5 linked regions of the Homo sapiens genome follow. The protein of the gene in region 5 purifies or fractionates together with the protein of the main gene of each other region. This does not show direct contact. Each region holds a gene or a part of one and is shown on either strand. Other genes may lie near its edges. The genes, in order: EDRF1, DNAJC13, FYB2, OGFOD1 and TBCE.

Evidence for each region.
Region 1: the proteins of TBCE (region 5) and EDRF1 purify together in Homo sapiens (affinity purification with mass spectrometry, with the first as the bait; one large-scale study listed by BioGRID). This does not show direct contact.
Region 2: the proteins of TBCE (region 5) and DNAJC13 purify together in Homo sapiens (affinity purification with mass spectrometry, with the first as the bait; one large-scale study listed by BioGRID). This does not show direct contact.
Region 3: the proteins of TBCE (region 5) and FYB2 purify together in Homo sapiens (affinity purification with mass spectrometry, with the first as the bait; one large-scale study listed by BioGRID). This does not show direct contact.
Region 4: the proteins of TBCE (region 5) and OGFOD1 fractionate together in Homo sapiens (co-fractionation; one large-scale study listed by BioGRID). This does not show direct contact.

Annotation. Positions count from the first base shown.
Region 1 is NC_000010.11:125,739,841-125,743,941, forward strand, and holds part of EDRF1 (erythroid differentiation-related factor 1), read left to right. Parts: intron 1-622; coding exon 623-811; intron 812-1,160; coding exon 1,161-1,361; intron 1,362-2,379; coding exon of another isoform or gene 2,380-2,399; exon of another isoform or gene 2,400-3,074; intron 3,075-3,217; coding exon 3,218-3,436; intron 3,437-4,101. UniProt on the Homo sapiens protein: Transcription factor involved in erythroid differentiation. Involved in transcriptional activation of the globin gene.
Region 2 is NC_000003.12:132,420,141-132,424,241, forward strand, and holds part of DNAJC13 (dnaJ homolog subfamily C member 13), read left to right. Parts: exon of another isoform or gene 1-1,577; intron 1,578-4,101.
Region 3 is NC_000001.11:56,721,905-56,725,404, forward strand, and holds part of FYB2 (FYN-binding protein 2), read right to left. Parts: intron 1,778-3,500; coding exon 1,684-1,777; intron 1-1,683. UniProt on the Homo sapiens protein: Adapter protein that plays a role in T-cell receptor (TCR)-mediated activation of signaling pathways. Required for T-cell activation and integrin-mediated T-cell adhesion in response to TCR stimulation.
Region 4 is NC_000016.10:56,461,554-56,465,053, forward strand, and holds part of OGFOD1 (prolyl 3-hydroxylase OGFOD1), read left to right. Parts: intron 1-980; coding exon 981-1,081; intron 1,082-3,500.
Region 5 is NC_000001.11:235,429,569-235,433,669, forward strand, and holds part of TBCE (tubulin-specific chaperone E), read left to right. Parts: intron 1-1,136; coding exon 1,137-1,236; intron 1,237-3,377; coding exon of another isoform or gene 3,378-3,530; exon of another isoform or gene 3,531-3,664; intron 3,665-4,101. UniProt on the Homo sapiens protein: Tubulin-folding protein; involved in the second step of the tubulin folding pathway and in the regulation of tubulin heterodimer dissociation.

The sequences.
Region 1 (4,101 bases), on a different chromosome or scaffold from region 5:
GTCACAGTTTCCAGTGCCTGGCACAGTACTTGGCAGAAAAATGATCATTTGTTGAGTAAAGAAGGTAGCGATGGGCTGGACTTTAAATAAAGAGTATTCCTTGTAGAGGAAACAGTAAACTAAGATGGGAGATAGGAAAAACAGGCATGTTTATAGGTGACAAGCAGTAACTTAACATTGGCTGATGGGTAGTAGGATGGACAAGTAGGAAGTGAGACTGAGAAACATGCAACTAGCTAAGTGGGGAGAAGCCGTTTTCATGTTTGAGGACAGGCTTTCACGCTGATCTAAGCTGTGCTTTAGGAAGGTAAACTTTGACAGGTTGACACATAGACTGGAAAAAGGAGACAGGTGTCACTCATGAGGTTAGCTATGTCAGTGACACTGGAAGAGAATGACAGAGTTGCCGATGTCAGGGAAGCAGAAGGCCTTAGAACTCCCAAGTGAGAGTCTTTTAACACGGCCATTTCACTCCAGTGTATTTAAGCAGTAAAGCATAGTATTTACCAGTCTTGTCACCTAAGTCTAGAGTGTTTCCATCAAGAAACAGAAAATATTTTTTGTGCATGAGACTTACAGTCAAATGAAATGTGCTGTCTTTTTTTTTCTCTCCATGTCACAGTGGGCTCCCTTCAGAAGGGCAATTATTCCAGTCAATCTGGAATGATCCCTGGCTCTTGGCAACATAAAATGAAACTTCAGCTGATTCTCAAGTCATCAAAGGCCTATTATGTTTTGTCCGATGCTGCCATGAGTCTTCAGAAATACGGAAGAGCATTACGATACATTAAATTAGCTTTGCAAAGCCATGGTAAGCCACTATAAATGAATATGTTTAATAGGCACTGGGAAGAGAGAACAGAGAAGGCATCTGAATCACAGTGGAAGTTTACTCCTATTTTTCTAGTAAATCTTTATTTTAAAATGACTGTTTCCAATCCTGTGTGTGTTACCTTCTATTTTAGTTTCTGCTCAGTGGTTTAACATCTCTTTGCTTTGAACTACATGAAGCCGTAATATGTATTGTTGGACCTAAAATAAACAGAATAGATACAGTGCTACAAAGCGTTCAGCTGGTAACACAGTTTCTTCATATTTCCTATGATCATTAATTTTTTTCTGCATTTGTGTTTTTTCTTCTTCCCTCCCTTTCTAAACAGATACTTATTGCTGCCTCTGCACCAATATGCTTTCCGAAGTGCTGTTGTTTCTCTCTCAATATTTGACACTTTGTGGTGATATCCAACTAATGCTGGCCCAGAATGCAAATAATAGAGCAGCACACCTTGAAGAGTTTCATTACCAAACAAAAGAAGACCAGGAGATCCTGCATAGCCTTCACAGAGAGTCCAGTTGCCAAGGTGTGCCACAGGCTTGGACCACGTGGTTCACAGTGGGACTGTGCAGTCTAGCTCATGCTTATTTGAGTATTCAGAAAAGGGGTAGAAATATTAGAGTTTTGATATTTGCTCTGTATTTATTTATTTATTTTTTGAGACGGAGTTTCGCTCTTGTTGCCCAAGCTGGAGTGCAATGGTGCAATCTTGGCTCACTGAAACCTCCGCCTCCCGGGTTCAAGCAATTCTCCTGCCTCAGCCTCCCAAGTAGCTGGAATTACAGGCATGCGCCACCATGCCCGGCTAGCCCACCTTGGCCTCCCAAGGTGCTGGGATTACAGGTGTGAGCCACCACGCCTGGCCTGCTGTTTTATTCATTTCCTAATTTTAAGATTAAGCATGATCTTGTGTATTTGTATAAAATGGTTTTTAAGTATTTTATAATTACTGTTTATATAACTAGAACTAAATATAAAGTAAGATATGAAGACAGTTGTGTCAACTTTTTATTTTATTTTATTTATTTATTTTTTTGAGACACAGTCTCGCTCTGCCACACAGGCTGGAGTGCAGTGGGGCAGTCTTGGCTCACTGCAACCTCCACCTCCTGGGTTCAAGTGATCCTCCCATCTCAGTCTCCCAAGTAGCTGGGACTAGTACATGCGCCACCACACCTAGCTAATTTTTGTATTTTTGTTAGAGACAGGGTTTCACCACGTTGCCCCAGACTGGTCTCAAACTCCTCAACTCAAGCGATCCTCCCACCTTGGCCTCCCAAAGTGCTGGGATTACAGGCACGAGCCACTGCACCCAGCCTTGTGTCAGCTTTTTACACTCTTCTTTTCATGAGGTTCTTCTAGGTAACACTTGTAGTCAGCTAACAAAGCCATAGGTTTCCTTTTGAAAGGTATAACAGTTGGTGAAGGAGGTTAATTAACCTTCTGAATGATTCCTTGGGGCTGAAATAAAGTGATCATTGTTTTTAAAGTTAGTTCATAGCCACCTGTCTTGCTTAATATGTCACTCTGTTTGGAATTGTCAGGCTTTAAAACTGGGAAGTAGAATAATCTGATCCGCAGCAGCGATATCCCTCCCTCTTACCTCAGCACAGTGTGTAACCACGCTGCCATTAACACAGTGAATGAAGTAAAAGATGAGTCTTCTGAAGGTGCTTCTGTAATGTCTCATGGGGTTGTTTTATTATGCTCTTAAATTGTTATACTGAATATTACTTGATGTTTGCCTCCCAGAGTTTTAGACAATTCATAGCTAGAGGAGTATACTGGGGGAGAGGGAAAAATGTGTTATTTTGTAATAGTTTTGCCCTTTCTTCCCCTCTCTCCGTCTTTCTCAAATAATCATGTTTTAATGTAGTAGGAAAGTCCTTGGTGTATTTTTACTACTCCCATCATAGCAATTTCAGTTAAATATTCTTTTTACTCTAGTCCCCACTAGATGGCATTTTTAATCTTCGAGGGCTTCTGTAGCAGCCTCTTCAGTGACTTAAAGTTAATATTGGGACATTATTTCAAGAACTATTTCCATTAGTTAAAAATAGCAACTTTACTTTGTATTAGTGGACAACTTTAGGTCCATTCTAATAAACAAGTGTACCTGGGAAAACCTGGGTCACAGAAATTGTTTGATATTCATAGGCAGGAAAATATTTTTATCCAACATTAATATCCCAAGAAATATAATTTTATAAATAAATAGATCTTTATTATGAAACTTAAATATTGTTGTATTGATTGAATCTTGGTATACTTACACTATATTGCATTTTTTATTACTTAGAATTTAGAATCTCAGGTTCATTTGGATACTGAGGAAGAAGGAATCACATGATTCGCATTGATGTATCCCTTTTTTCTTTTCAGGATTTGCATGGGCAACTGATTTGTCTACAGACTTAGAAAGTCAACTCTCTGTTAGTTGTAAATGTTATGAGGCTGCTAATGAAATCTTGCAGTTTAGTGACTTGAAAAGCCAAAATCCAGAACACTATGTACAAGTATTAAAGAGAATGGGTAACATTAGAAATGAAATTGGTGTGTTTTACATGAATCAGGCTGCTGCATTACAGAGTGAGAGACTAGGTGAGTATCTCTTTAGATTCCTCTCTATTGCTTGTTCTCTCAGAAAATTATGCTAATTTTGTATGAGTCAAGCAAAGAACTGTGGCACTTGATTTTATATCATAAAGAGGTGCTCTATTAGAGAACCTCTTATTATTCTTAAGAAATAGAATTAGGAACACATGATTTTCCCTTGGAATGAATTATTTCAATGTTCTTCATTCTTACTTTTGTACTCACTCCATCTGATCAATTCAGAAGCAAATGGGACATCCAGCCATGTGCCAGGCTCTATGTTGGATATGTAACTGGCTAAAATATGGTTCTCTCTTCATGTTGGGAAGCTAGATAGGAACACAAAGCCTCAAAATGCTGTGGATGAGTACCGACGAAGTATAATGGGAGACTGGGGAAATAAGACATTTATGGAGGTTATAAGTTAGAAGGCTTTTGGGAAAGTGTTGTTGAGCAGGGTGATGCAGGATGTGTAGAGCATCAGCCGGCAAATGTGAGGAAAGGAGGGCACTCCAGACCAAGGAGGCGGTGTGAGGAAGAAGCCAGGGATCTCAAAGGGTGCAAGTGTACGTTTAGAGGGAGCAAGAGGCCTGTGTGAGGAAGATGTGGGATAGTGGGTAAGTAAGATGTGGGATGGCGTAGTAAGATGTGGGATGGTGTAAGTAAGATGT
Region 2 (4,101 bases), on a different chromosome or scaffold from region 5:
GCATGATGAAAGCTGAATGCACAATCTTGCAAACTCTTATCCACAAACCTCCCTGGGTCTACTAGAAAAGACTGGAAAGAACCCTGGGTGAGTCTGCTGTGCAGATTGAGAGGGAGAGGAACAGCAACAGAACTTTTAAGAGGGTCAAGAAACTGCTGTGATTCTTCCCCTCTGCCTCTTCTATGGAAAAAAGCTTTAATCTCTGGGGAGAAGGGTATCTCTGTTGGCCCCATTGGTGAACATTCAGGGGGTAGATGAGAAGTGGGAGAGAATCTTATGCCTGGAGGAGGGGCCCTGAGCCCAAAACTGCAGTCGGGAGTGGTCAACAGAACCGAGAGTGCTGCCCTCCTGAGATTCAGGAACACAGTGTTTGACTTAGACTTAATCAGAACATCAGACTGTATCCCCCACCCCCAACCCCCTGCCACCAAGCTAAGAAGCTTTCAGTAACAAGTAACCCACAAAATACTACTAGGAAAGGAACAAGATTATGCAAAGAGGCACAACACAAAGAATCAAACAGGCATTGCTCTAGTAAACCATCGCCCACCAGAGAGACAAACTGTTCTGCAGATTCATGAAGGCTGTAATACACTGAGGATAACTATGGCAAAAACAAATCATAAACTAAGTCCAACTCCTAACCAGATTAACACAAACCCTTCACCAAAGGCCTCACAAAGAACAGGCGTGCTCATTTCCAGTCATAAAAATTACCTCAATCTCTACTCCTACACAACATGTCCAGCTTTTAACCAAAAATTATGAGGCCCATGAAAAAAACTCCCAAGAGAAAGAGCAGTCATCATTATACATTTTTTAAAAAGATAGGAGCTTAAAAAGAACTGTTTTGTACATGTTAAATACTATAATAATGACATTTTGCCTTGAAAAAGTTTGAGCAAACAATGCAGTGAGCATTGGATGGAGTTATAGTTTCTGAATTACTGTGAAGTAGTAGAAGGAAAAAAAGTTATAAGATGGAGTGGAAAATTAGTAACATATATGTGAATGTATGTGGTTCATTGACCACCTGAAGTGTGTGTGTGTATTTTGTGAATTCCTGCATGACTCAGTTGGGTACAATTTTCTGCGTTCACTTAGTGTTGGGACAGAATCACTATAAGCAAATGTGACATTTTCATTATGCTCAAATTGTTCAGTAATACACCAATCCTGTTAAAATTCACATGATCAAGAAAGCATTATAGCAGAATTGACTATATGCATTTCAATATGTAAATAGTTAAGTATGATTATACCAAAATACACAAAGGACGTGTCAGAGGCTTGTATCTTTACATGGAATCATTTTGAGATTTTTTTTGTGTGTGTGAGAGACAATCTTGCTCTGTCACCCAGGCTGGAGTGCAGTGGCACGATCTTGGCTCACTGCAACCTCTGCCTCAGCCTCCTGAGTAGCTGGGACTACAGGCGCTTGCCACCATGCTGGGCTGATTTTTTTTTTTTTCTGTATTTTTAGGAGACAGAGTTTCACCATGTTGCCCAGGCTGGTCTCGAACTCCTGACCTCAAGTGATCCACCCACCCAGGCCTCCCAAAGTGCTGGGATTACAGGTGTGAGCCACCATGCCTGGCCCATTTTGATTTTTGACAGAAATGTTGATGTCTACAGATTTGTCACATTGGTGACTCAAATACCACAATTGAGATTATTAGCATTGTCAGAAAAGAACAGGGTTAATAAAGTATAATCTCTTAATTTACATTGCAGCCACATTCCTGGAAAAATCTCTGTATATTAAACCCTGCAAAATGTACTTGGTGAGTTATATATAAAACAATTAGAGTCTGGGATTCATTCATTATAAATAGGTTTTTGCCTACATGACTAACCAACTAAGCATTTGGACTTCTGGACTTTTTTCTTTTTCCTTTTTTTTTTTCTTTTTTCAGACCTCACTCTGTTGCCCAGGCTGGAATGCAGTGACACGATCATAGCTCACTGTAGCCCTGATCTCCTGGGCTCAAGCGATCCTCCCACCTTAGCCTCCTTAGTATCTGGAGCCATAGGCACGCCATGCCCAGCTAACTTTTTTTTATTATTATTATTTTTAGTAGAGACGAGGTCTCACTATGTTGCCCAGGCTAGTCTCAAACTCCTGAGCTCAAGCAATCCTCCCACCTCAGCCTCTCAGAATGCTGGGATTACAGGTGTGAGCCACCATACCTGGCTCACTTGGACACTTGAAAGTCGTATGGTGTGGATGGTACTTATCTTTGGGACTGTAATGTATGTTGAATATCTAGTCTCATCCACTAAATGCTAGTAGTGCTCCCAGTCATAGTGCCTCAGATGGGATGGCATCCTAGCCCAACCATTACTTTAGTTCAAAATTTTAATCAGTGGTTTTCAACATATTTTTTCTGTTTCAGCAGTGTTCACATACCCAGCATATGCCAATTTATAACACTTCTTGTTATGTGGAGTGATTCTTAATCATAGGAACTCCTTTGAGAGTAACTGAGTTAGATTTCTTTGTAACAAATAGTTTAAACCAACATGGTTATGATCATCTTTGCTAATTTAAGATAGTTACCTGTGCAAAGGTACATTTAGGTGTGGTTCAGTCAATAAAACCATATAGCTTGCTAGTAATTCTTTTCAGATGCTCTTTATTCAATAGTCGACATATGGGAGTTTTACTTGTACTTTCATGGACTACTTGTGAAAAAGAGTGAGCTTTAAAGTCAGTGGAATTTTACAGTTTAAGCACTCAAGTTGCCCTTAGAAGAACACTGCCTAGTCACATATTTAGCACATGCCCAGTGGTAATATCTCTTTGCAATGGATTAATAAGAGTTTGATATTTTGATTATCAGATAGAAAACAAAACCCCTAAAGCAATCCAGAATTATTTTAGCTGGGTGCACAATAATCACACGTGTAATCCCAGCACTTGGAAGGCTGAGGCGGGAGGATCACTCGAGGCCAGGAGCTCCAACCTAGCTTGAGCAACCCCGTCTCATCAAAAAATGAAATAACTAGCTGGCTGTGGTGACGTGTGCTCGGGAGGCTGAGGCAGGAGGATTGCTTGAACCCAGGAGACTGAGATTACAGTGAGCTATGATTGTGTTGCTGCGTTTCAGTCTGGGTGACAAAGGAAGACCCTGTCTCTTAAAAAAAATTATTTCGACGCTTTGATTTTTGCCAGCTCTAGTTGCCACAACTTAATGGAAGGGTTGGTGAGGTTATGAATGGAGGAGATGTTCTCTAATATTTCATGTATTCTGTAATACATTTAAACGCTTATACATGGTGTTCTCACTTTTATTGTATTCCTTAGTCATCTAAGGCTATGGGGTTTCTCTCCTCAAACTTCTAGTCAAGCTACAGAATGTATTTTGAATGTTTATCAAATCTTAGAGCAGATAAGCCATTTTCCCCCCAAATCTTAGCACTAATGGGCTTAATTTTAAAAGTGAAACTTTGCTTTTTTAAGATAATTTGGTAGTGTTCTATAAACTGTAAAGCGCCACAGAAGAGGTAGGAATAATAGGGATATTTCAGAACTAAACTAGAAATGTATGTTTTTGCTATTTTGTATTGAGTGAAGGGGAAATTGTAGCAAATTAAACTTTTGTCTTTTAATAGTATAAAAAGAACAGTGTTTGGGTTTTCAGGATGCTTTCTGTAAAACTGTCTTCAAGTTGTATGTGTTAAAAGCTTAGGAAATTTAGTCCCGCATTATGCATTTACTGTAATGATAGGAAAAACAGCAACAAGTTAAAATATGGCTGCTAAAAATTTCTTTTGCCCATTTCAGGGCCTGTTTACCATAGTAGAGCATGATTATTAAGTGCCTTAATAAGCTGATAAGCTTAATAAGTTGATAAGCTGAAGACCTTACAGAAATAGTATAGTTTGTTCTTGCATAAGCCAGGTTATGCTTCAAAGATAAAATGAAATAGAAATTAGGTCTATAAAGTTACAATAATGTGTATAAACTAAAAATATGTAAATGATCAATAGCAATGATTTCAAAGCATTGCTTAAGTGAACATGTTTCTGGAAAGAAAGCTTTCAGGTGAGTATTTTAAGGCATTTTTAAGCTTTGGAAAGGGAAGGGTCATAGTAATA
Region 3 (3,500 bases), about 180 Mb from region 5:
CCCCAGTGCCTGGCACAAGTGAGCTATACAACGTTTTATGATTTGAGCTGGACAAAAATTATTGAAATGGCCTATCAAGGAAACCCACTACAGGTAATAAGAATGGAATTATACACATATACAGGAAATGGAATATCTTTCACACATGAAACAATAAAAAACACACAGAGGTGGAAAAAAGGATTGGATGGAATATAAGGGTCTTTTCAACAAGTAATTGCCTCACTGTTGTTTTTCAATTAATCAAGTAACATCAGGGTTGCAGTAGATAATAACATATCACAATTTCTAGATATAGTAACCCCAATCAGCTTTGGTTCAAACAGGAATTATCAGTGATGATGAGAGATTTGTGTACATTCCTATTTTAGTTCATCTCAAAAAATATTTTATGCATGTTTACAAAATGCTAAGCAGCCTTATTATGCTCTGCACATGGATATAAACATAAATAAAATAACCATTGTCCTCTAGGAGCTCATAGTGTAATATGATGAACATGTAATTCCAATTACTTTAATGTGTGATAAGCTAGAGATTGCTCAAGTATATAGGTAAACAGAAGAAGAGTAATTTATTTAATTAGAAGATTTGGGCAAGTCTTCCTGGAGAAGAGGAGATGCCTCGACTGGGTCTTGATAAATGAACGAGCTAGTCAGATACAGAAAAGTGCAAAGGTGTACCAGAGAGTTGGAATAGACCAAGGAAGCACTTAGAGGGATGAAATAGCAAGACAAAGATAGAGGTGGAGGTTCATTCGAGGGACAGAACTATGAGCAGTTTGTTGCCAAAGCAGAAAGTGCAAGGCAAAGAGTGGCAAGAGATAAAGCCAGGAAGATATGCAAAGATCAGGACATAAAGAGCTTTCTATGCCATGTTAAGAAGCCTAAACTTTAACCATTTTGCAAGGGGGAATTTTTGAAAAATTTTAGGCAGCATAGTGACTATGAGGAGGATGCACACTTTGTCTCTCTCAGTCCAGTGTCTAGCACATGGAAGGTGCTCAGTATGTTTCATAGTTAATAATCCTCACTTTGACAATATATGAAATCAGGGAAGTTTGAGCTTTAGAATAATGAAAAAATGTCCCATGGACTCTTAATAACAGAATAAGAAGGCAGAGAGCTTCGGATGCTGCATCATTCATTTGTTCATTTTGTCATTCATTTGCTTGTTTATTTAGGCATTCATTTACCAAACACTGTGCTTACAGTTTTATGTCAGGCCCTGGGGAACAAACTTGAATGAGACAGGGTTTCTTTCTCAAAAAGGACTCAAGAGATTAATTAAAGATTCACAGACACACACACACACACACACGCACACACACACACAAATGCTTTAATACAACTAATCAGTGTTACAAAAGACGTGTAAAATAGACATATAAAATGTGCTGAAGGAGTAACTTAACCTGGACGAGTTAGGGAGGAGTGGGTGACATTTGAACAGAGCCTTCAAGAACAACTTAGGAGTTTTTCCAGGAAGAAGGAATAGCATGGACAGACATAACAATATAGAAATGTACCAGGAAAAAATAGGAATGAAATGCTGGCTTTTTGTGTCAAAGATCATGTCTGTATCTCAGAGAGGCAGAGGCACAGCATACTTACAGATTTTTTTTTTAAATGAAAGCTCCTAGCTGTTAATATTGCTAATTTTTACCTTCAGAAGAGAACGTACCTTAAACCTTTCTCTAAATAGTTTTTCTTCTCTTTTCATTCTGTTCTTTTCTAAGTTTTGCTTCTTGGTTTTGAAGAAATTTCTAGGAGAGAAACTAGCAAGAAATGTGCAGGTAGGGTAAAACGTACTATAATAAAACTTTTTAAGTTTCTGAGCCTACGAAGTCACTTCATTTCAGGATAAATTCAGGTATAATTTTTTGTGATCATAATTTTATATAAAATAATACACAAAGTCACGCATCTGTATTTGTGTATATGTACACACACGTATGTAGGTTCATAATACAAATACACACATATATTTCCATTAGAGCAAATTGTCAAACAACTGATCAGGGTAATGTCAATTGCTTTTCGCTACAATTAAAAAAATATTTTTGATGGCAAGATAATAACGGGATAAAATCACATTGGTTAAACAAATGAAGGTAAACAAGAAACTTGTCTGAATGAGACTTAGAGATATAACTTTTTCTTTTTTTTAGGTTTAGGAAATTTATAAATGTTCCCATTCACCTTCAGACTATTTAATGGAAACCAGTAAGAATAAGTAAGCAGCTTACTTTGTGTGGTTTTCTAAGTTGTTAAACCTAATTGGGGATCACAAGTCTACATGGTTCAATCGAAGAGCTCTCCAGTTTGCTGAATGTTTTGGAGGATGAATACCATTAAGAAAATAAAGAAAGATGCCACAAAACGTGTGAGAATTTCAGCACTTAAAAATAAATAACCCTACAGAAGAAGCTGATTATACTCTTAGTCCTCCCTCTTGCTCTTCACATGAGATTTGGTTCTTCTTTTTAGCAGTTCAATGTATTGACAGAAGTAAAAAAGTCAACCAAGTCCTGTTAGTCTTATTCCTAAGTGTCCCCTACATTTGTTTATTTCCAAGATTACAGCCACTGCCATATTTCAGATTATCACTACTTATTGCCTGAGATGCCATCTTCGTCTTACCTCACCTTCCTCAAATTCATTGGTGTATCTGCCTGCAGAGTCATTTTTCTAAAATTTAGTTATGTCACTCTCTTGCTTAAAACCTTTCAATTTCTCTCTATTGCCAATAGGATAAAGTCTAAATTCATTAGCATTTTATAATCTGGCCTGATCATCTTTCCAGCTTCATCAGCTGCCCATTTCCCTACACATTACAATGTCTACTTGGGTCATCTTAGAAAGTGGGTTATCCTTTTCATGCTGTTATACATGGGATACTGCTATGGTTTGGATATTTGATTCCTCCAAACCTCATGTTGACATTTGGTCCCTAATGTTGGAGGTGGGGCCTAATGGGAGATGTTTGGGTCATGGGGTTGTCTCCCTCATGAATGGCTTGCTACTGTCCTCTTGGTAATGAGTGAGTTACCACTCTCACAGTTTCCTAGAGCCTGGCATCTCATTTGTTAAAATGAGCCTGGCACCTCACTTGTCTGTCTCTCTTCCTTTATAGCCATGTGATGTCTGCACATTCTCCTTCACCTTCTGCCATGAGTAGAAGCAGCCTGAGGCCTTCACCGAAGCAGATGCCAATGTCATGCTTCTTGTACAGTCTACAGAACCATGAACTAAATAAACCTCTTTTCTTTATAAATTACCCAGCCTCAGGTGTTCCTTTATAGCAACACAAACAGACTAAGACAGATAACCTTAGCCAACTTTTCTTTAAACTTGCCATCATCTTTGATTGATAAAAGAATAATAAAAGGGTTGAACTAATACTTCTTACTTACTGTTAGAATACATTATGGTAGAAATCATTTTAAAAATGATACAGAAATTGATACAGAAATAACTAGCCTTACAGTAATGTTTTCT
Region 4 (3,500 bases), on a different chromosome or scaffold from region 5:
TATAACTGTTTGGTTAGAAGCATATGGGTCACAACTTGAACTTGTAATCAGTATCTGAAGTGGGGTTGGGGGAGAGGGCACACTGGGGGCAGTCTCATGGGACTAAGCCCTTAACCTTTATTAATGCCTGGTAGATAGTGTCAGAATTGAATTGAATTTTAAGACACTCAGCTGGTGTCAGAGAATTGGTCAGTGTGGGGGGATAAGCCCACACATTTGGCATTGGAAGTGAAGTAAAGTGTGTAAAGAAAAACAGTTGAGGCCAGGTGCTGTGGCTCATGCCTATAATCCCAGCACTGGAGGCCGAGGCAGGCGGATCACTTGAGGTCAGGAGTTGGAGACCAGCCTGGCCAACATGACAAAACCCCATCTCTACTAAAAATATAAAAATTAGCCGGGCGTGCTGGTGCATCCCTGTAGTCCCAGCTACTCGGGAGACTGAGGCAGGAGAATCACTTGAACCCAGGAGGCAGAGGTTGCAATGAGCCAAGATCACACTGCTGTACCCCAACCTGGGCAACAGAGCAAGACTCTATCTCAAAAAAAAAAAAAGAAAGAAAAGAAAAGAAAAACAGTTGAGCTTTCCATTTTAGTGCTGAAAAACTTGTCTGAAAATCAGTAACTTGGACTAGACCACTGGTGTGATGAGTTGTTATGACAAAGGCCAAACTGCTGCCATGACAGGGCATACTTTAAATTTAGGAGAAAGAAAATACTGAGAAAACATGAACCATTAGAACAAAAAATAACAAATATAATGTAGGTAGAGACTTACATTTATTTTTCTGGGAACATTAGACTTAAACTATGCAAATTTGAACTGAGAAACATTTCTCAGAATGTCTCAAATGAGATCGGAGAATGGATCTCTTGAATACAATGTGATCTCCAGGAAAGAAAAGTTGTGGCCTAGATCCAAACAGTTGTGACCTAGATCCCACACTGTGGCATAACAAGTTATCTTTTGTTTACATTTCTAGGAAAATTCTGTTTGAAGATTTCCGGTCCTGGCTTTCTGATATTTCTAAAATTGACCTGGAATCAACCATTGACATGTCCTGTGCTAAATATGAATTCACTGGTAAGGAAGATAAAGGCCTGGTGTCTGTAAGATATAAAGGCTTTAACTCAGCATTAATGGAGAGATGGTATCTGTGTACCAAAACACTCAACTGAATGTCCCTGCAAAGCATCCGGATCTTCCTGATAAAGACCCAGTTCATAGACAGAAATACCCACCTTATTGGAAGGCATAAGCAGTGGTTGTCTTTCAGAATATGATGAAAGCTACTGACCATATTTTCAGCAAAATCCCCATAACATACATACACACCAACTGTACATACAATATCAAGAAATTCAGAGTGATATATAAACTCTATTCTTAGACTTCCTAAGGAACAACCATCTCCTTCAATGCCATTCTCCCTTCTCTTTTTTATTTTGAAGGCAATAAGTGAATGCATTCTTAAAGGAAAAAAAATCAAACAATATTGCAGGTATATGGTGTAAACCATGATAGCCTTCTTCACCTTCTCCCTGCTCCCTCTTCTCTTCAGAGGTACCTATTGTCACCAGTTTGGGGTGCATCCTTCCATTTCTCTTTCTGAGCATATAAATGGTTTTTTTGGATACAAGCTTGGTTTTTCACCCAGAAGGAAAAGGTTTTTTCTTTTTTAAATTTTACTAAATAAAATAATTCTTTGAGTGTACTCTCATACACTGTCCTGGAAGTATAGATGGCTCACAACTTTTAGAGGATGACTTGGTGATACATAGGAAAAGCCATATCATGTATCTTCATTTACTGCCATGTCATTTCTTTTTTGGGTTTTTTTTTTTTTTTTTTTTTTTTTTTTTTGGTTTGTTGGTTCGTTGGTTCGTTTTGAGACGGAGTCTCCCTCTGTTGTCCAGGCTGGAATGCAGTGGCGTGATCTCGGCCCACTGCATCCTCCACCTCCCGGGTTCAAGTGATTCTCCTGCCTCAGCCTCCTGAGTATCTGGGATTACAGGCATATGCCACAATGCCTGGCTAATTTTTGTATTTTTAGTAGAGATGGAGTTTCACCAGTTGGCTAGGCTGGTCTCAAACTCCTGACCTCAAGTGATCCGCCTGCCTTTGCCTCCCAAAATAGTGGGATTACAGGTGTGAGCTACCATGCCAGTATTTTTTTTTTTTTTTTACTTTGAAGTAATTTCAAACTTGCAGAAAAGTGGCAAGCATAGTACAAATAATTTATTTTTTCCTATTTTACTTGAGAGTAAGTTGTTGGCATGATGTTCTATGACCCCTGAATACTTCAGTAATTTCTACAAGGACATTCTCCTACATGATAATCATAAACCATCAGAATCAGGAAATTTACGTTGATGCCTTATTCCACATCAATGGATTATCTAATCCTCAGGCTCCATTCAGGTTTCATTATTTGGTCCTTTATAGCAAAAGGACCCAGTCCAGGATTGCATGTTGCATTTAGTTATAATATTGTCTCTTCAGCCTCCCTCAATCTAGAACAGCCCCTCCATCTTTCCTGGACTTTCATGATCTTTATGCTTTTGAAGATGTACAGATGAGTTATTTTGGAAAACTTGCTTCAGTTTGGGATTGTCTGATGTTTTCTCATGATTAGATTCAGGCCATATATTTTTGGCAGGATTACAGAAATTAATCCTGTATTCTTTTCACTGTATCAGGTGGTGCATGGTTTCAGTGTGTCACATTATTAGTGATATGAACTTGGATCACTTGATTAATGTGGTGGCTGACATCAGGTTTTTCCACTGTTCTTTTTCCCTATCAGTATATATTTTGTGGGGAGATACTTTAAGATTATGTAAATATCCCATTTCTCATCAAAGTTCGATTTGCTTATTTTAGCATTCTCTGATGTTTCTTGCTAAATTATTACCATGAAGGTTGCCAGATGGTGATTTTATAACACAATCATTTCTCTACATTTATTGTCATTCCACTCTAGAGAAGACCTTTCTCCTGATTTATTTATTCATTCGTTTATATTGGTATGGATTTATGGATTGCTGGTTGTGTAATGAGCTGTTACCAGTTACTATCATTATATTGATGCTCATACTGTCCCTGATTTATCAAGGAGAACCCCGTCAAACTGACTTCTGCGTTCTTTTGCTATGTCCCCATCATTCTTTTTTTTTTCCTACTTTCTGCAAAACAAGATTTTCCAAGCTTATCTTTGTATTTTCCATGCCAACGTCCTAGAATGACCTGGAGTTGGCCATTCTTCCAAAGAATCCTGGTTCCTTTTAGTGAAGAAAGATACTTAACAATCAAGATCTGGACTCTTAAGTGTCTTTGCTATTAGGGTGTCACTGCTCCCAGACCCCTTCAGTTTGAAGAGGTGGTGAATATCTGTATACATGTATATACACATGTGGATGCACACACATACATTTACATTTGGAATGTATTTCTTTTTTTTTTTTTTTAGACTGTCTCTCACTCTGTTGCCCAGGCTGGAATA
Region 5 (4,101 bases):
ATTTCATTGGGATACTGTTTAATTCTGTTTTGATAAGGATTTTTCATTAATCTACCTATTTTACTAATGTCACACTTTTCTAGGCCTTCCTGAATATTTAATTTGTTTTAATCTCAGAACCTAACTTTCCAAGGGCTTAGCCAGGCTTCCTCCATTTTTTTTTTTTTGAGGCAGAGTCTCACTCTGTTGCCCAGGCTGGAGTACAGTGGTATGATCTTGGCTCACTGCAACCTTCGCCTCCCAGATTCAAGTGATTCTCCTGCCTCAGCCTCCCAAGTAGCTGGGACTAGAGGTGCCTACCACCACACCCGGCTAATTTTTATATTTTTAGTAGAGACGGGGTTTCATCATGTTGGCCAGGCTAGTCTTGAACTCCTGACCTCAGGTGATCCATCTGCCTTGGCCTCCCAAAGTGCTGGGATTACAGGCGTGAGCTACCGTGCCCAGCACAGGTTTCCCCTTTCATTCTTGAACCATTTTTGCATAGACATGTGAGTGTACAGTAAAGCCGGTAGACAGGCCTGAATGAGTTGTGCTCCCAAATAGAGCAAACGGGGGCAATTCAACCCATGGTGTCTCATCTTCTGGAAATACGGGCTTGTGTTTTTTAATAGTATCGTCTTTCAAAGTGACTGTCAGGATTGAATACTTTCTGAGATTAGGGTTTTGAGAAATAATTTAAGGGGCAATAATTTCATCCATCCTCATAGCCAAAGGGCAGACTCTATGTTTAGAGAAGCAAAATTCTAGCCCATGATTCAGTGTATCAGTAAGACTCTGGAGAACGGGACTTTGTTTTGCAGTATCCAGAGCCATATCTTGTGAAGCTGGAAGCTCACCTTGCAAATGCCTGAGTTTTGGGTTTAGGAAGCCTACAGCCGCATACAGGTGCCCTAATCCTGTGAAAGCATCTTTACACAGCTGATACCAAAAAGTTGTATGTTGTAAATGTTAAAAATTAGGTAGTCTTGATTCACTTGAATCATTAAAAAAGTGATTTTTAAAATATAATTCCATTTTAAGATTGAAACAAATCAAACCCCTTAGATTAAAACCCAGATTGTTGCTTTCAACAACTATTTCAGTTGGGTTTACTGTATAGAAATAAGTACATTGTATCTTTTTTTTCTACACAGTGAAAATAAACTAAAATTTCCCTCCGGTTCAGTATTAACTGGAACGCTTTCTGTACTGAAGGTTTTAGTCCTCAATCAAACAGGAATAACGTGGGCTGAGGTAATCATATTTCTTTGTTTTATTACACATTAATAAGCAATTAAAAATGTTTGGTTTAATAGAGAATTGTTAGTACAGTTTAATAGTACAACTGTGGCTTCATTTAAATCATCCCAGTATCTATTAATAGATAACAAGATTCATTAAAGTGCCTTATAAAAACGAGTTAAAAGAGCATCATAGTTGAGTTTTGCATCTGGAAATCCATGTCCTATCTCAGCTCATTTTGACTTGTTCTGGTGCCTTTATAAACAGTGGCGCTCCGTTATGGTATGAACCAGTATGTGCTGAGCTTCAAAAAGCCGTAGTGTTGGCTATTGACTAGCTTCCTGAGTTTTCCTGTTAGTTTTTTTTAGAACAGAAGCCAAGCAGCAGAAAGGTTCTCACATACTTTTCTTGTTAGAAGTTCGGCTCTTGGAATCCACTGTTCATTTTATACAGCCGGGCTCAAAAGTAGACTTGTGGGTCCTTGGCACAGCAGCATTTGGGACTTATATCTGGCAGTACTATTTCCTGTCTGAGGTGTACTGACTTCACACACCCAGAGCATTCCACTTTCTTTTTTTTTTTTTTTGAGACGGAGTTTTACTCTTGTTGCCCAGGCTAGAGTGCAATGGTGCAACCTTGGCTCACTGCAACCTTTGCCTCCCAGGTTCAAGCGATTCTCCCACCTCAGCCTCCCAAGTAGCTGGGATTACAGGCATGTGCCATCACACCCAGCTAATTTTGCATTTTTAGTAGAGACATGGTTTCTCCATGTTGGTCAGGCTGGTCTCGAACTCCTGACCTCAAGTGATTTGCCCGCCTCGGCCTCCCAAAGTGCTGGGATTAGAGGTGTAAGCCACCGTGCCCAGCCCACTTTCATTTTTATTTATTTATTTTTCTTGAGACAGAGTCTCACTCTGTTGCCCAAGGTGGAGTGCAGTGGCGCAATCTCGGCTCACTGCAACCTCCGCCTCCCAGGTTCAAGTGATTCTTCCGCGTCAGCCTCTCAGGTAGCTGGGATTACAGGCATGTACCACCATGCCCAGCTAATTTTGTATCTTTAGTAGAGACAGAGTTTCTCCATGTTGGTCAGGCTGGTCTCGAACTCCTGACTTCAGGTGATCCACCCACCTCGGCCTGCTAAAGTCCTGGGATTACAGGCGTGAGCCACCGTGCCCAGCCCACTTTCATTTTTATTTATTTATTTTTCTTGAGACAGAGTCTCGCTCTGTTGCCCAAGTTGGAGTGCAGTGGCATGATCTCGGCTCACTGCAACCTCCGTCTCCTGGGTTCAAGCAATTCTCCAGCCTCAGCCTCCAAAGTAGCTGGGATTACAGGCGCTTGCCACCATGCCCAGCTTATTTTTGTATTTTTAGTAGGGACAGGGTTTCACCATGTTGGCCAGGATGGTCTTGAACTCCTGACCTCAAATGATCTGCCTGTCTCAGCCTCCCAAAATGCTGGGATTACAGGCGTGAGCCACTGTGCCCAGCTTGGGCATTCCACTTTCAAACCAAGGGTGTAGAAATACATTCCCAGCCATGTTCACCCAGGAAGTGCCACAGAGGCCACTCAGTGAGAGACAGGTGGGCCCCTTGTGCCCTTAATATGCCCGTGGCCATGGAGCCTCTTTCCTAGGGCCCCTCCTCTGTGAGGCGCTTACTCCCTCTCAAGGTGTAGATGTAGCTGGAAGACAAGAAGGGGCCAGACACTGGCACTGGGGCTCACACCTGCAATCCCAGCGCTTTGGGAGGCTGAGGTGGGAGGATCACTTGAGCCCAGGAGTTTGAGGCTGCAGTGAGCTAGGATTGCACCTTTGCACTCCAGCCTGGGTGACAGAGCAAGACGCATCTCACCCTCCAAATAAACTAGGAAGGGCACACAGAAATTGAAGTGGTGGAGATGGCAGTAAAGTTCCAGTGAGAAAATTTAGAAATAGTTGGTGAGGCTGGTCATGGTGGCTCTCGCCTATAATTCCAGCCAGCACTTTGAGAGGCCCAGGCAGGAGAATCACTTGAGGCCAGGAGTTCAAGACCCACCTAGGCAACATAGAGAGATCCTGTAGATGCTATATATATATTATATATTATTATACATAATTATATAATATATAATAATTTTTTGTAATTTTTTTTTTTGTAAAAAAAAAAAATTAGGCTCATGCGCAGTGTGGTGGCAGCAGGCACGGTCTCGACATGCAGAAAGACGCCAGCAAGTTCGTGGATCTGTGCGTGCTGCAGAAATGCTCCACCAGCAACTGCATCATCAGTGCCAAGGACCACACATCCATGCGGATGAACGTGGCCAAGGCCAGTGAGGTCACGGGCAGGTTTAACAGCCAGTTTAAAACCTGTGCTATCTGCAGGACTGTTTGCAGGATGGGTGAGTCAGATGATTCCATTCTCTAATTGGCCATGGCCAAGGGCGTCATCTCAACTATTTGGTTTTTGAGATGGAGTCTTGCTCTGTTGCCTAGGCTGGAGTGCAGTGGTGTGATATTGGCTCACTGCAACCTCTGCCTCCTGGGCCAAAATGATTCTCCTGCGTCAGCCTCCCAAGTAGCTGGGATTACAGACGTGCACTACCACGCCTGGCTAATTTTTTGTATTTTTAGTAGAGATGGGTTTTCACCACGTTGGCCAGGCTGTTCTCAAACTCCCGACCTCAAGCATTCTGTCTGCCTCAGCCTCCCAAAGTGCTGGGATTACAGGCGTGTGCAACCATACCCGGCCATTTTTGTATTTTTAGTGGTAATGGGTTTCATCATGTTGGCCAGGCTGGTCTCCAACTCCTGACCTCAAGTGATCCACCTGCCTTGGCCTCCCAAAGTGCTGGGATTACAGGCATGAACTCACTGTGCCCGATCTCAAAGAACTTTTG